2 separate regions of the Homo sapiens genome follow, and region 1 is linked to region 2. A link means that fine-mapping ties the variant in region 2 to the plasma level of a protein whose gene starts in the linked region. Region 2 holds a variant in brackets. A gene starts in the other region. All regions are shown on their forward strands.

Region 1 (8,332 bases), not on the chromosome of region 2:
CATAAGAACATAACTGAAATTAGAAAGATATCAAATTTTCAGAACAATATCATTACATACCAATGGGAGAAGAAAAACATCTTAAACAGAAAAAGGGCAAGAGAAATAAAGTGGCATTTCACACACAGACACACACACACAGAAATGATGAATAAACACATGAAAAAGTTCAACTTACTGATAACAAAAGAAATGTAAATATGTAGCATGAAATAGAAGCATAATGGGATGGTGAGAATAATCATTTAATTTATAATACCCAGAGGGAAATAGAGGTATCTATGGGAGGTGATATGCACAAGAATGACTTACTTTGAACAATCGTTAAGGAGAACAATTTGCTACTATATATCCACATTCTTAAAACCGTTTACAACATTTGATTTCACCTTTTCATCTCCAAGATGTGATCCTAAAAATGGCACAGAGACAGAGACAGAGACAGACTCCTCCACAACGATGCTCACTGCAGTGGAAAAATGGAAAGAAACAAAATGCCCAAGAACAGAGCCAGTGGAGAACAGTGACTCAGAAAAACACCTGGTGAGCCAGCAAGGTAGAAGGTGAAGTCACATGAGCAATTGATCACCACATGTCACGACATGAAATGAAGCAGGCTATGAAATACATGATGCGGAGAGAGATGCTCAGAACACACTGAGGGTTTTGTACCAAATAACAAGTCATCTTTGGATGGGGAGATTATGACAATTTTCTTCTTTGGACTTTTCCTCTTATTTTCTAAATTTTCTACAATAAAATATATGAGTTTTATAGCCACAAAGAAAGAAAGATTCTTTAAAAATGACACAACGCCTTGATACATTCAGCTCAAGCCAGGACTTGGAGTGGCACTTGTTCTGTTTCATTCTTCTGAGTAGCCTTCAGCTCGAAATCATTGTGGAAACCTAAACTTTTCCCCCCAAAAAGCCAGCCTTGTTGACAGCATTTTTACTCCCTTCATGCAGAAAGAGGGCTCCTGGGGTACTGGGGATCACTGGAATCTTGGGGATCTGGTTTCACTGAGTCACAAAGCAGGAGAGTCAACAGGGACAAGCAGGGCTGCATCCCAGGACAAGTGACATGTGCAAAATCCCCAAGTCTCCTGCAGCTCTAGAGCAGAGGCAGGAGATTGAACCACTGGGGGAGAGCCCAAACATGGTGACAGCAGAGAGCAAATTATTTAATTTTGAGATTATCCACTTGACAGTATCTCAGAAATAGCCTAATGCTGTCTCTCTCTCTCTCTCCCTCCCTCCCTCCCTCCCTTTCTGTCTCTCTCTCTCTCTCTCTCTGAAACTCAGTTTTCCTTCCCTGTAAAAAGAGGGGTTCTCCCATTTGGGTGACCATTAGAGTTATCCAGGGAGCTCATAGGAAACACAATCTAGGAGCCAGTGCCTCAGTGTCTTTACCTAGTCTCCCAGGTGAGAACCCAGGAACAATGACCAACCCAGTGCTGCTTTAATGTGCATATAAATTCCTGGGAGTTTTTTTTGTTTTGTTTTGTTTGTCTGTTTGTTTGTTTCTTTTTGGGACGGAATCTCGTTCTATCGCCTAGAGTAGAGTTCAGTGATGCAATCTTGGCTCACTGCAACCTCCGCCTCCCGGGTTCAAGTGATTCTCCTGCCTCAGCCTCCTGAGTAGCTGGGATTACAGGAGTGCACCACCACACCTGGCTAATTTTTGTATTTGTAGTAGAGACGTAGTTTCATCATGTTGGCCAGGCTGGTCTCAAATACCTGACCTCAAATGATCCGCCCGCCTCGGCCTCCCAAAGTGCTGGGATTATGGGCGTGAGCCACCGCGCCCAACCAGACAGCCTGTTAATTAACCTGCAGATTCTGCTTCAGTAGGTCTTTAGACTTACACGGAAGCTCCCAGGTGATGCCCACGCTGCTGGTCTGAGGTCCACCCCTGAGTAGAGAGGCTCTAAAGCTTTTTTCATTCCTGTCTTCTATTCTGCCACCAGCCTTCCTTCCCTTTGTGTCTTCCTTTCCTGCATTTAGTAACCCTGAGCTCCTGATGTGTGCAGGAGATTACACCACGACGCCAGAATGGGCTAGGATTTTCTAGATGGTACAGCGAGCCTTGAGGTGAAGCAGGCTGGCAGTATCCTTAGAAGTTGTGTCTCTTGGCTGGGCGCGGTGGCTCACGCCTGTAATCCCAGCACTTTGGGAGGCCGAGGCGGGTGGATCATGAGGTCAGGAGATCGAGACCATCCTGGCTAACATGGTGAAACCCCGTCTCTACTAAAAATACAAAAAATTAGCTGGGCGTGGTGGCGGGCGCCTGTAGTCCCAGCTACTCAGGAGGCTGAGGCAGGAGAATGGCGTGAACCCGGGAGGTGGAGCTTGCAGTGAGCCGAGATTGCGCCACTGCACTCCAGCCTGGGCGACAGAGAGACTCCGTCTCAGAAAAAAAAAAAAAAAAAAAAAAAAAAAAGTTGTATCTCTTTAGGTAAATTACTGCTCCTGGAAGGGTTATCCCATGATCAAGAGTTGGGGGTCTGGCCAGGCATAATTTCTCACACCTGTAATCCCAGCACTTTGGGAAGCCAAGGTGGGAGGATCACTTGGGCCCAAGAGTTAGAGACCAGCCTGGGCAACATAGTAAAAACTCATCTCTACTACAAATAACAATAATAAAATAAATAAATAAATAAATAAAGAGTTGGGGGTCCTCAGGATCTTAGGCAGGCAGAGGTATTGCCAGCTCTGCAGCTTGCTAAGTTCACTGTGAGGCTGCATAGAGTATAGGCTGGAGGAGCCTGTCTAGTGGAGATGGGGAGGACCTCCCACCCCACTGTTGTTTTACCATCCCCAGTTCTGCCTCCGGACAGTTTCTGAGAGCAAGTTTGTCTTGCCGAGTGGCCCAGAGGAGGCCCGGGGTCCCCTCCTGAGGACCCTCTCCCACCTCCCTTGGCTCCTCCCACTTGGCTGGCTGTTTCTTGCCTCATCTCCCTTGCAGCCCCCAGAGCAGCCCAGTTCAGTCCCCAGCGTTAGTAAAGAATGTTTTAAGAAAGATCAAGTTTAAGACACAAGAAAAGCCTGCATGGGTTTTTATAAATTTTGAAGCAAAATTCTTTCTTGGCCAGGCACAGTGGTTCACACCAGTAATCCCACCACTTTGGGAGGCTGAGGTGGGCAGATTGCATGAGCCCAGGAGTTCAAGACCAGCCTGGGCAGCATAGCAAAATCCTATCTCTAAAACAAATACAAAAATTAGTCGGGCATGGTGGCACTCGCCTGTGGTCCCAGCTACTTGGGAAGCTGAGATGGGAGGATCACCTGAGCCCAGGAAGGTCCAGGCTGCAGTGAATCATGACTGCACCACTGCACTCCAGCCTGGGCAACAGAGTGAGATCCTGTCTCAAAAACAAACAAATAAACCAACAAACACAGCCCCAAACCCAAGATTTTTCCTTAACACATGATACAGTGAAAAGGGCCTAGGGAAATGGTTCCCAAACTTGAGTATTAAAATGACCTGGGCAGCTTTTTAAATTGATGCTCTGTTCTCACTGCAGCCCAATTAAATCAGAGTGTCGGGGTGGAAGATGGGTGTCAGTGTTCTTCAAAATTCCCCCGGAGTTTCCACTGCACAGCCAAGTTTGGGAGCCCCTGGCAGGGAGAGAGGAATGCCTGGGTTCCTATCTCAGCTCATTCACAGGCTTGCGGTGAGACCCCAGTGGCAGCTTCTTCCCCTCCCCAGGCTCAGTTCCCTCATCTCAAAAACGATGCAGTCATGTAGCTCTGAAATTATTTTTAATTTCAAATTACTCACATAGGACCCAAGAATTAGAGACACTTATGAAATCTAATTGAACCCCAGAATTACTGGAAGGAAAAACAACTTAGATCTTAGAGAACAGAACTAGTGCTAAACTCATTACAATTTTCGCAAGCTCTCAGACTCTCATACTCTGCACATTGAATTGCAGGTAATAACATAAGGTTCCTAACTAGGTCACATTTACCATTCAATGCTATGTGGTAGAAGCACACGCATATTAAAATAGGAATACATATTCTCTTTTGCTTTTCTAGCCTTTATATATAAAACCAGTTACCTACCATTGTGATAAGCAGGACTCCTTATAGACAGGTACATCCAGGCAAAGCTGCATCAAACTTTTATACTGGAGAGGGCAACCACGCATTCGACATCATTGGGAATGATAACAAGGTGAGAACACATTGAGTGTTTACAGAGGGTTGACTATCAAAAGGAAAGTATGGTTTCAGATGATTTATGAGTTATTAATCAATCACATCTCCACCCAAGTTATGTGTTTACCTTGTCCCCACCCCGATCTGCATTTGCTGCTGACCTAAAAGAGCAGAGGAGGAGAGAACTTCTCTTTGCTGAGCCTTCGCCCTATGCTGGTGGATTGCTAGCACGTGATGTGTCCTTATTCGATTTTATACACAAAGAAACAGCCTCAGCGATGCCAGTCACAACAGCCAGGTGGTAAAGGTGGGTTTCCTGAAGGCATAAGAATAGCCCACAGGTCAGCCCACCAGGCCCACCGGGCCTGGGTCTGTGGCCCAGATGACCCTGCCCTTAGGGTCTGACATGAGAACAGAAATGGGTCAAGCCATCCTGCAGGGCACAGGAGAGCAAGAACTACATACAGCTCGGGGTTCCCTGACAAGCTGAATTGCTGGACCTTTCTAGAGCCCTTCTTGAATCTGTAGTCTACTCCCTGCTGCATCAAGCAAGCCTTGTTTCTCTTTGTTCCACAGTGGTCTCCTCCCAAACAACCGCACCTGCCCTCATCATGGCTAGGATGGCCTTTGGGGAATGGCAACAAGCAGAACCTCCTAGGGTGCTGGAGGGACTTACTACTTTATCTGTTTGCTCTGCCACCACAACAAAACACTGCAACTGGGTGGCTTTGACTAAAGAAATTTATTTGCTCACAGTTCTGGAGACTAGAAATGTGAGGTCAAGCCATTGGGGAAGGCTTGTTTTCCTCTGAGCCCTCTCTCTTTGGTTTGCAGATGGCCATGCTCTTGCTGCCTCTTACATGGCATGCATCCCTGGCATCTCTCTCTGTGTCCAAATTTCCTCTTCTGATAAGGACACTAGCTGTATTGGATTAGGGTCCACTCTAACTATCTCATTTTACCTAAGCCACCTCTTTAAAGGCCGTGTCTCCATTACAGTCACATTCTGGGATATTGGGGGTTAGGGCTTAAACCAATGAATTTTTAGGGGATGCAATTGAGCTCATAAGACAATTTTATCCCAAAAAGTCCCCTCACTCCTCGCCACAGCTTGCTACAGTTCCTAAAATTTAACCTGAGATCCCTCTGCCCACAGATGAGAGTTCATGCTCCTAACCAGGGGATCCTTGAAGCTCATCTGAGCTGGCCACAGTGGCCCTTTCCAGCACCATCCTCTACCCTCCCTAAAATCAGCCTCACCACCCCTAACACAGCTTGAGGTCACTCTCCTGCTCCTTAGAAGAGCTGTAGTGCTGTCTGGCTGCCTCCTCACTCACCAACGGTGCCACACACTTCTGCCTTTACCTGCATAAGTTAAGTGTTCATCGACTCTAAGTTCCAGGAAATCGGGGCACATTCATCATGCACTGTAGCCCCTTGGATTCTTTTAAAACTCCAAGTTTGAAGAACTTCCCACAGTGTGAAGTGGGAAGTTCTGCCTTACATTGAGAGGAACTAGGATTTGCTGCCCTCACCTGCTTACCTCCAGGGTACAGGCACAAACCTCGGCTCCACAAACACTCTCCTCTCAAAAAGTCCTCTTCAGAGAGGGTCCAAGGACACTGGCATCATGCAGAATCTCCCTAGGAATGATGGTGTGGAGGGTTCTGGCTCTTAGGGCAAGGGTTTCTTGGAGTCCAGTGTGCAGTGTCAGTGCATGGGGGCTGTGACTGTGACTGGTAGCAAGGTGGTCTTGCTGGAGCCAAGCAGCAGTGTGGTTTCAGTGCTCTACCTGAACTTGTGCCAAGAAAGCCTGTGTCTCTGGCCGTTAGTAGAGGCTTGAATTCTCTAACAAATCTCTTTCCACCTCAAATGACCTAGAGTAAATTCTATTGTTTGCAGTTAAGAACTTTGTGACCCAGACAGTGACTGTGACCTATTCCTGTCTGTGTGCCTTCCAGTGACCAGCAGGGTGCCTGGTGCAAAGCAGCTGCCCAGAACAGGATTTCACCTGGGTTATCTCAGGTATTCCCAAGTAGAAAGTATCCTGGCAAGACCAACCCATATCACTGCTGAAATGAGCTCATCTACTGCTCCCCAGGGGTTGAGAAAGGGATGCTCAGAGCAGGTGTGGCCAGCTGCCCACAGGGAGGAAGGCAAATGAAATGAGCAGTGCTCTCCGGGTGTGTGACAGCCAGCTCTGTCCAAACCTGCCTGATCAGTTTTCAGTGTTGATCCTACCTCAACTGTCATCCTTATAGATGGAACCAACTTAATTTCTTTTAATTATTTATTTTTCTTTTTATTTATTTTAATTTTTTTTAAAGACATAGTCTTGCTCTGCTGCTCAGGCTGGAGTGCAGTGGCACCATTATAGCTCACTGTTACCTCCAATTCCTAGATTCAATTGATCCTCCCACCTAAGCCTCCCAAGTAGGTGGGACTACAGGAGCGTGCCACCACACCCAGCTAATTTTTAGATTTTTTTTGTAGAGACAGGGTCTTGCTATGCTGCCCAGCCTGGTCTTGAACTCCTGGGCTCAAGTGATGCTCCTGCCTCCTCCTCCCAAAGTGTTGGGATTACAGGCATAAGCCACCATGCCCAGGCTGATTATCATTTTAATGGCTACATTTTATTCCATGGAATGATATGGACCATCATTTATTTGGTCAGGTACCTCTTGTTGAACACTCAGGTTGTTTCTGACTTTTTTTTCTATAATTAGAAACACTGGGCTGGGCATGGTGGCTCACACCTGTAATCCCAGCACTTTGGGAGGCCGAGACGGGCGGATCACGAGGTCAGGAGATCGAGACCATCCTGGCTAACATGGTGAAACCCCGTCTCTACTAAAAATACAAAAAAATTAGCCGGGCGTCATGGCGGGCGCCTGTAGTCCCAGCTACTCGGAAGGCTGACGCAGGAGAATGGCGTGAACCCGGAAGGCGGAGCTTGCAGTGAGCGGAGATCGCGCCACTGCACTCCAGCCTGGGCGAGAGAGCGAGACTCTGTCTCAAAAAAAAAAAAAAGAAACGCTGTTGAAATCCAGGTCCTTCAGATAAAAATTTCCCACACTTATACTAATTTCTTTAAGATAAATTCATAGAGGCCGGGTGAGGTGGCTCGCACCTGTAATCCCAGCACTTTGGAAGGACGAGGTGGGTGGATCACGTGAGGTCACGAGTTCGAGACCAGCCTGACCAACATGGAGAAACCCCGTCTCTACTAAAAATACAAAATTAGCCGGGCGTGGTGGAGCATGCCTGTAATCCCAGCTACTCCGGAGGGTGAGGCAGGAGAATCACTTGAAACCGGGAGACGAAGGTTGCTGTGAGCTGAGATCACGCCATTGCACTCCAACCTGGGCAACAAGAGCGAAACTCCATCTCAAAAAAAAAAAAAATCACAAAGGTAGAATTTCTGGGTAAAAGAAAATTATAATTCTCTTAGATTATCACCTGTTACTATGATATGTGGGAAATGCTTTGTCTTAATTTATTTTTCTTTGCTAATTGGCAAGATTAGACCTTTTTTTTTTTTTTTTTTTTTTTTTTTGAGACGGAGTCTCGCTCTGTCTCCCAGGCTGCAGTGCAATGGTGCAATTTCAGCTCAGTACAAGCTCCACCTTCCAGGTTCACGCCCTTCTCCTGCCTCAGCCTCCCGAGTAGCTGGAACTACAGGCACCCTCCATCACACCCGGCTAATTTTTTGTATTTTTAATAGAGACGGGGTTTCACCATGTTAGTCAGGATGGTCTTGATCTCCTGACCTCGTGATCTGCCCCCCTCGGGCTTCCAAAGTGCTGGGATTACAGGCGTGAGCCACCGTGCACAGCCTAGACCTTTTTTTGTATATGTATTGACCAATTGTTTTTCTTCTTTTGTGAGTACCCTGTTCACTCATGTCCTTTAGCTATTTTTCTGTTTGGGTTATTTATATTTTTCTTCTGGATTAGTTAAGGCTTCTAATATTAAAGATATTAATCTTCAAGTGTCACACATGTTAAAATATTTCCCTGATTTTTTTCATGGTCAGCACACCCATTCTGGAGTTAGAACTAAGGAATGAGAAATTTTCCTCATTTATATTTTTACCTCTCAAATGATATGTTTTGACATGTAGAGATTTTAAACTTTAACTGACTACAGCCACACTATCCCCA
Region 2 (8,319 bases):
TGCTAAGATTGCTTCTCAAACTGTCAGTGGTGATTGACCAGTTTGATTTTATAAAATTTCCAATCCATCCCAAATGTAAAGTTTTGTAAAATATCGTAAAAATAAATGATTAAATGTATATCCATCAAAGGACTTGTATCTAAAATACATAAAGAACTCTCAAAACTCAACAGAAAAAAAATCCAAATAGAACTAGAAGACACGAACAGACAGTCCACCAAAGAGGATATGTGGGTTGCAGAAAACACAGGAAAAGATGTTCAAAATCATTACCTATTAGGAAAATGAATGTCCATTTCCTGGTTTGGGTATTGTATTATTGTTATATAAGATGTCATCATTGGAAGAATCTGGGTAAACAGCTCATGGGATTTTACGTACTTTTTTCGTGATTTCCTGTGAGTCTATTATTATTTCAAAATAAAAAGTTATCAGGCCAGGCTTGGTGGCTCATGCCTGTAATCCCAGCTCTTTGGGAGGCTAAGACGGTGCAGGTGCAGATCACCTGAGGTCAGGAGTTCGAGAACAGACTAGCCAACATGGTGAAACCCCGTCTCTACTAAAAATACAAAAATTAGCTGGGCGTGGTGTTACACCCCTGTAATCCTAGCTACTCGGGAGGCTGAGGCAGGAGAATTGCTTGAACCGGGGAGGCAGAGGTTGCAGTGAGCAGAGATTGTGACACTGCACTCTAGCCTGGGTGACAGAGCGAGACTTGGTCTCAAAAAAAAATAATAAAATAAATAAATAATAAAAATGAAATGAAAAGCAGATACATGAAATACAAGCCCAACTTTTAAATCATAGATTCAACAGGCAGAAAACAACCATGTCCAATTGCTGTAAGAGTTTCTAAACATTTACTCTCATTTTCTGGGCCTGTTGTGCTGAAAAACAGTGGCGAATCTCTGGCAGACCAGCACCGGGCCGTGGACCACACTTTGAGTGGCTGTGGACCACCTGCTCAGACGAGAAGCAAATGCCAGAGATGGAATTATTTTTTTTTCCTTTTTGGCTTATTTTTTTGTTATGGAGTTATACTGCTGTTCAAAATAAAACTTGATTTAAAATATACAGAAATAATAATACAGAAGAAAATCTATTTTCCCCAAGTCTGGGTTTATGGATAAAACACACCGTCTACTCTGATGCTGCCTTCTCTTTCTCCCTCTCACCCTCCCCTAACTTCACCTCTTCCATTCCTCTCTCTCCTCCATGTGCTTGCCTTAACTGCCCTCTTTTCCTAGTGGCAGGTCCCTGGCTCTGGTCCCACCACTTTGTCACTATTCCAGACCCTCCCCGACCTATACTGGGGAAATCACTTACCTTTCTGAGCATCAGTCTCCTTATGCGGGGTGACAGTGAGACTCACCTTGGAGAGCTATCCTGTGAGGAGTGGGTGAGGTCACTCAAATGGGAGAAGCTCTGTGAACCACGTATAAGTGTGCACACGCAGAGTGGACTCTGTCTGCACACCTGGGTCCCCACATGCGCTGGCTGGCTCTGGTCAGCCTCCCAGTCTTCATTCCCATCTCACCCAACCCTCTCAGGCAAGCCAGGTGTCTCTGCTTCCAACCAAATGCCCTTCCCAGGAGGCCTCCCCAGCCCACATCCTGGCAACACTCAACCAGTGCCCCTGTCCCTCAGAGAGGGGTGTGTCCTCCCTTTCTACCTAGGAGCTCTCCCAGGCCAAGGCAGTCCTCCCCAGGGTAAAAGCCAAGTCAGGTTGCTGTATTTTTTTTCTTTGCTATAGCCTCAGGCTATGCAAACTTTTCCACCTGTTATATATAACAGGTGGAAGATATATAATAACAAATACAGTAAGTTCTCACTTAAGTTGCTGATAGACTCTTGGAAACTGCAACTTTAAGGGAAACAAAACCAATTTTACCATAGGCTAATTGATATAAATGAATAGAATTCCTGTGACATATTTCTGGTGACAAAAACATCACCAAACTTCTAAAGATCAAAACACTTCTAATATTAAACACTGAAATGAATGTAAGCTATACATACATTTAAGAAAAATTAAGAAAAACAAGATAATTAGGCCAGGTGCACTGGCTTACGCCTGTAATCCCAGCACTTTGCAAGGCCCAGGTGGGTGGATCACCTGAGGTCAGGAGTTCGAGACCGGCCTGGCCATCTTGGTGAAACCTCATCTCTACTAAAAATACAAAAGTTAGCTGACTGTGGTGGTGGGCACCTGTAATCCAGCTACTCAGGAGGCTGAGGCACAAGAATCACTTGAACCCAGGAGGTGGCGGTTGCAGTGAGCTGAGATTGTGCCACTGCACTCCAGCCTGGGTGACAGAGCGAGACACTCTCTCGAAAGAAAGAAAGAAAGAGAGAGAGAGAGAGAGAGAAAGAAAAAAGAAAGAAAGAGAAAGAAAGAAGAAAGAAAGAAAAACAAGATAATTATTTACCCAATTATTCCAGTTCAGGGTCGTGGGTGGCTGGAGCCCATCCTGGCAGCTCAGGATGCCAGGTGGGAACCTACCCTGGACAGGACATGGTGCTCACACACCCACACTCACTCGTGCTGGGACCATGCAGACTCACCAATGAGCCTAGCGTGCACAGCTTTGGGACATGGGAGAAAACCCACGCAGACGTGGGGAGAATGCAAACACCACGCAGACAGTGGCCCCTGCAGGAATCGAATTTTTCTCTTACCAATGTCATGACAAAAAGACATGGAATGAAATGACGTTATTCAAGGACCTGCTGTATGTGAATACTGGCTAACTCAATGAGCACTTACTATGTTCCAGGGATGATCACAGGCCCTACCCATGTACTAACTCATTTAATGCTCACAACCATCCTAGGAGGTAGGTTCTGTTCTAAGCCCCAGTGTACAGATGTGGAAACAGGCCAGTGAGCAGAGAAATCACCTGCCCCAGGCCACCCAGCCGGTAAGCCCCACACTCTCATCCACAACACTGCCTGTGGTTGCTGGTTGGTTTCCTGCTGTTGTTCACCCAGCTCAGCGCCTGGCACAATGAGAGGCTCTGTAAGCCTTTGTTGAGTGAATGAATGCTGCCCATTGTCCTGCATCTACGGAGCTGTTTTCCTTGCTATTGAAGGGGCATGACTGGAGGCAGAGGCCACAGAGATGACCACACCAGGGCAACCTGTAGTGCCAGTGCCTGGTTCCACCCGGGGGGCATCTGAGAACTGTGTCCTTCCATTCCTGAGTCCAGCACTTCCCAGGCCAGGTCAGCACTTTAATTCCTTGGGAAGTCTGTTTTTATTTTATTTTATTCATTTTAATGTTTTAAAAGTTTTTAGAAATAGAGAAAGGGTCTCACTTTGTTGCCTAGGCTGGTCTCAAAGTTCTGGGCTCAAGCAATCGCCCACCTCCACCTTCCAAAGTGCTGGGATTACAAGCCTGAGCCACCACGCCCAGCTCTGTGTTTCTTTCTTTTTTTTTTTCCTTCCTTCCTCCTTCCCTCCTTCCTCCCTCCCTCCTTCCCTCCTTCCTCCCTCCCTCCTTCCTCCCTCCTTTCCTTACTGTCTCCCTTTCTCTCTCGCTCTCTCTCTCTCCCCTTCCTTCCCTTCCTTCTCTCCCTTCCCACCCTCCCTTCCCTTTCTTTCTTTCCTTTTTTGTTTTTGTTTTTGTTTTTGAAACAGAGTCTCACTCTGTCACCCGGGCTGGAGTGCAGTGGCGCGATCTCGGCTCACTGCAACCTCCGCCTCCTGGGTTCAAGCGATTATTCTGCCTCAGCCTCCCAAGTAGCTGGGACTACAGGCGTGTGCCACTACGCCCAGCTAATTTTTGGATTTTTAGTAGAGACAGGGTTTCACCATGTTGGTTGGCCAGGATGGTCTCAATCTCTTGACCTCGTGATCCACCCCCAAAGTACTGGGATTACAGGTGTGAGCCACCGCACCCAGCCTTATTTTCTTTTTCTCTCTCTCCTCTCTTCTCTCTCTCTCTCTTCCTCTCTTTCTTTCTTCTCACTGGAGTCTTGCTCTGTCGCCCAGGCTGGAATGCAGTGGCGTGATCTCTGCAACCTCCGCCTCCCGGGTTCAAGTGATTCTCCTGCCTCAGCCTGCCAAGTAACTGGGCCTACAGGCACACACCACCACACCTGGCTAATTTTTGTATTTTTTGTGAAGATGGGGTTTCGTCATGTTGGCCAGGCTGGTTTCCAATTCCTGACCTCAGGTGATCCGCCCACCTTGGCCTCCTAAAGTGCTAGGATTACAGGCTTGAGCCACCGCGCCCGGTCACTAAGTCCCCTTATTTCTATCTCAAGCCTAAGTTGTCAGGAACTCACTGAGTTCTCCCGTCTATGGAGGAAAGAGATCCATCTCACAGCTTTGCCACCTGAACACCCTGGGACAGCTGCCCAGGGGTCTGGGCTGTAGTCTAATCTGGTCAGTCTTCTTTCCTCCACTTGGATTTTTCTCAAATAGCGTCCCTTTCTCCCCAGACTAACCCATTTTCCTGAATTCTTCCGATTCTTTTCCACATCTTGTTCCCCTCTACCCCCTAAGTCTTCCTTCTCCCCTTTTCAGCTACCCATTTATTTGCATATTCATTGTAAATACAGTTATTTGAAGTCTTTTTCAGATTGTTCTATTATCTCAAGTTTCAGGGTCAGAAATTCTCCTATTGTGATGTATGCTGTCTGTCTGTTGCTCATGGTGACTCAGTTCCTGATGCATTTGATACTTTCTGATTGTGAGCTAAAGTTGGATATTTTTTTTTTTTCTCATGGTGGCTCAAGTGGCCTGGGTTGTAAAGGCTCCCTCCAGACACGATTTTTCCTTTGTCACCGTACTCCTGGCCAATGTAAGAATTCCTGTTTTTGTGGTGGTGGTTGTTACTGTGGTAAAATATAGAACATAAAATTTACCATCTTACCCATGTTTATGTGTCCAGTTCAGTGGCATTAAGTATGGACTTTCACAGCATTGTCACCATCACCACCGTCCATCAACAGAACTTGTTCCTCTTCCCAAACCAAACCTCTACACCACTAAACACTAACTCCCCATTCTCTCCTTCCTCCAGCCCCCGGCAATCACCATTCTATTTTCTGTCTCTATAAATTTGCCTACTCTAGCTAGGTACTGCATATAAGTGGGATCATGTAAGATTTGTTCTTTTGTGTCTGGCTTAGTTCACTTAGCCTAATGTCTTCAAAGTTCATCCATGTTGTAATATGTGTCAGAATTTCCTTCCTTTTTAAGGCAAAATAATAGTCCATTGTATATGTGATCGTACATTTTGTGTATACTACACTATTAGTTCATTCATTGATGAACATTTGGGTTGTTTCCACCTTTTAGCTATTGTGACTAATGCTACTATCAACACCGGTGTACAAATATATTTGTTTGAGTCCCTGCTTTTTTTTTTTTTAAGATGGAGTTTCGCTCTTGTCGCCCAGGCTGGAGAGCAATGGCACGATCTCGGCTCACCGCAACCTCCACTTCCTGGGTTCAAGCGATTCTCCTGCCTCAGCCTCCTGAGTAGCTGGGATTACAGGCATGTGCCACCACACCCGGCTAATTTTGCGCTTTTGGCAAAGACAGGGTTTCTCCATGTTGGTCAGGCTGGTCTCGAACTCCTGACCTCAGGTGATCCGCCCGCCTCGGCCTCCCAAAATGCTGTGATTACAGGCTTGAGCCACCGTGCCCGGCCAAGTCCCTGCTTTTAACTCTTTCGCGTATATACCCAGAAGTGAAATTTCTGGCTCATATGGTAATTCTGTGTTTAATTTTTTGAGGCACCGTCACACTGTCTTCCACAGTGGCTGCACCTTTTACATTCCCAGAAGCAATGTACAAGGGTTTCAATTTCTCCATATCCTTGTCAACACTTGCTATTTTCTGTTTTGTTTTGTTTCTTAATAATAGCCATCCTAATGAGTGTGAAGTGGTATTTCACTGTATTTCCCTAATGGTAAGTGATGTCGATCATCTTTTCATGTGCTAATTGGCCACTTGTATATCTTCTCTGGAGAAATGTCTTTTCGACAATGAATAATTGCATGAATAATTGCATAAATGAACAATGAATTTTCAAGTCCTTTGCCTATTTAATCAAATTTTTTTTTCTTGAGACAGGCTCTCCCTCTGTTGCCCAGGCTGGAGTCTGGAGTGCAGTGGTGTGATCTCGGCTCTCTGCAGCCTTGACCTCCCAGGCCCAAGCAATTTTCCCACCTCAGCCTTCCTAGTAGCTGGGACTACAGGTGCATGCCACCATGCCCAGCTGATTTTTGTATTTTTTGTAGAGATGAGGTTTCACCTTGTTGCCCAGGCTGATCTTGAACTTGTGGTCTCAAGCGATCGGCCCGCCTTAGCCTCCCAAACTGCTGGGATTACAAAGTGCTGAGCCACTGAATCGACTTCAAATTGTTTTGTTGTTGTTGTTGTTGTTGAGTTGTAGGAGTTTTAAAAATATATCCTAGATATTGGCCAGGTGTGGTGGTTCATGCCTGTAATCTCAGCACTTTAGGAGGCCAAGGCGGGCAGATTACTTGAGGTCAGGAGTTTGAGACCAGCCTGGCCAACATGGCGAAATCTTGTCTCTACTAAAAATACAAAACTTAGCCAGGCATGGTGGCGCATGTCTGACGTCCCAGCCTACTTGGGAGGCTGAGGTGGGAGAACCACTTGAACCCGGGAGGCGGAGGTTGCAGTAGCCAAGATTGCGCGAGTGCACTCCAGCCTGGGTGACAGAGCGAGACCCTGTCTCAAAAACAACAACAAAAAACCCACAAAATATATATCCTAGATATTAATCCCTTATCAGATACATGATTTGCAAATATTTTTTCCCAGTTCATGGGAAATTGTGTCTTTTTTTTTTTTTTCTTTTGAGACTCCGTCACCCAGGCTGGAATGCGGTGACTGGATCTTGACTCACTGCAACCTCTGCCTCCCAGGTTCAAGCAATTCTCCTGCCTCAGCCTCCTGAGTAGCTGGGACTACAGGCGCCTGCCACCACACCCAGCTAATTTTTGTATTTTTAGTAGAGACGGGGTTTCACCATGTTGGCCAGGCTGGTCTCGAACTCTTGACCTCAAGTGATCCACCCACCTTGGCCTCTCAAAGTGCTGGGATTACAGGCATGAGCCACTACACTCTGCCCCCGAAAGTTCTTAATTTTAATGAAGTCCAATTTATTTTTGTTTTGTTGCCTATGCTTTTGGTGTCATATCCAAGAAATCCTTGCCACATCCAATGCCAAGAAGTCCCCCTTATATTTTCTTCTAAGAGTTTTGTAGTTTTAGCTTTTATGTTTAGGTATTTAATCCATTTTGGAGTTAATTTTTTAATATACTTACGGTAAAGATTCAACTTCATTATTTCGCATGTGGACATTCCAGTTTTCTAAGTCTTCTTTAAAAGACTTGCCTTTCCCTCGTTGAACGGTCTTGGTACCCTTGTCTAAAATCATTTGACCATATGTGTAAGAGTTTATTTCTGGGCTATTCTATTCCATTAGTCTAAATGTCTGTCTTTATACTAATACCACACTATTTTAATTATTGTAGATTTGTGGTTACATATTAAAATCAGAAACTGTAAGACTTCCAATTTTGTTCTTTTTCAAGATTGTTTTGACTATTTGGGGTCCTTTGAGATTCCATATAAATTTTAGGATGGATTTTTCTGTTTCTATAAAAATATTATGATTTGCATTTCA[A/G]TAGGGATTGCATTGAATCTGTAGATTGCTTCAGGCAACATTGACACCTTAGCAATATCAAGTCTTCTAATCCATGAATATAGGATGACTTTCCATTTATTTGTGTCTTCTTTCACTTTGTTTGTCAACACTTGTGATTTTCAGCGTACAAGTCTTTTGCTTCCTTGGTTAAGTTTATTGCTAAGGGCCAGGCGCAGTGGCTCACACCTGTAATCCCAGCACTTTGGGAGACCGAGGCGGGCGGATCACGAGGTCAAGAGATCAAGACCATTTGGCCAACATGGTGAAACCCCATCTCTACTAAAAATACAAAAATTTGCCGGGCATGGTAGCAGCTATGGTGGGCAGCATGGTGGGCAAGTAGTCCCAGCTACTTGGGAGGCTGAGGCAGGAGAATCACTTGAACCCAGGAGGCAGAGGTTGCAGTGAGCCAAGATCATGCCACTGCACTCCAGCCTGGGTGACAGAGCGAGACTCCATCTCAAAAAAAAAAAAAAAGTTTATTGGTAAGAATTTTATTCTTTTTATTCTTTTTCATTGCTTTTATAAATGAAATTGTTTTCTTAATTTCCTTTTTGGATTTTTCATTATTAGTGTATAGAAACAACTAATTTCTATGTGTTAATTTTGTATCCTGCAACTTTGCT

Alleles and levels. Alleles are on the strand shown, and positions count from the first base shown. The strength of an association depends on the size of the effect and on how common the allele is.
As copies of A replace G in region 2, the plasma level of the protein whose gene starts at base 4,108 in region 1 goes up (moderate association).

Evidence for each region. A credible set is the group of variants that fine-mapping cannot tell apart. PIP is the chance, under the fine-mapping model, that this variant and not a neighbour inherited with it causes the effect. Protein levels are from antibody-based Olink assays in UK Biobank. Linkage for the fine-mapping came from a reference panel and not from the study's own genotypes, which makes the PIPs less certain.
Region 1: MSMB starts here. The variant in region 2 is the best candidate, but not a certain one, in a credible set for the plasma level of the MSMB protein (UK Biobank, PIP 0.59).

Annotation. Positions count from the first base shown.
Region 1 is chr10:46,042,162-46,050,493 of GRCh38, forward strand. It overlaps MSMB (microseminoprotein beta), which reads right to left and starts at 4,108. Exons shown (of 4, transcript NM_002443.4): 1 at 4,074-4,108. The coding sequence starts at 4,076. RefSeq lists an enhancer at 2,057-2,558.
Region 2 is chr6:36,945,181-36,953,499 of GRCh38, forward strand. It overlaps a transcript of PI16 not described here. Among named protein-coding and RNA genes, the nearest start is that of PI16, 5.4 kb to the right of the region's middle. The variant A/G (reference allele first, on the strand shown) is at 7,673.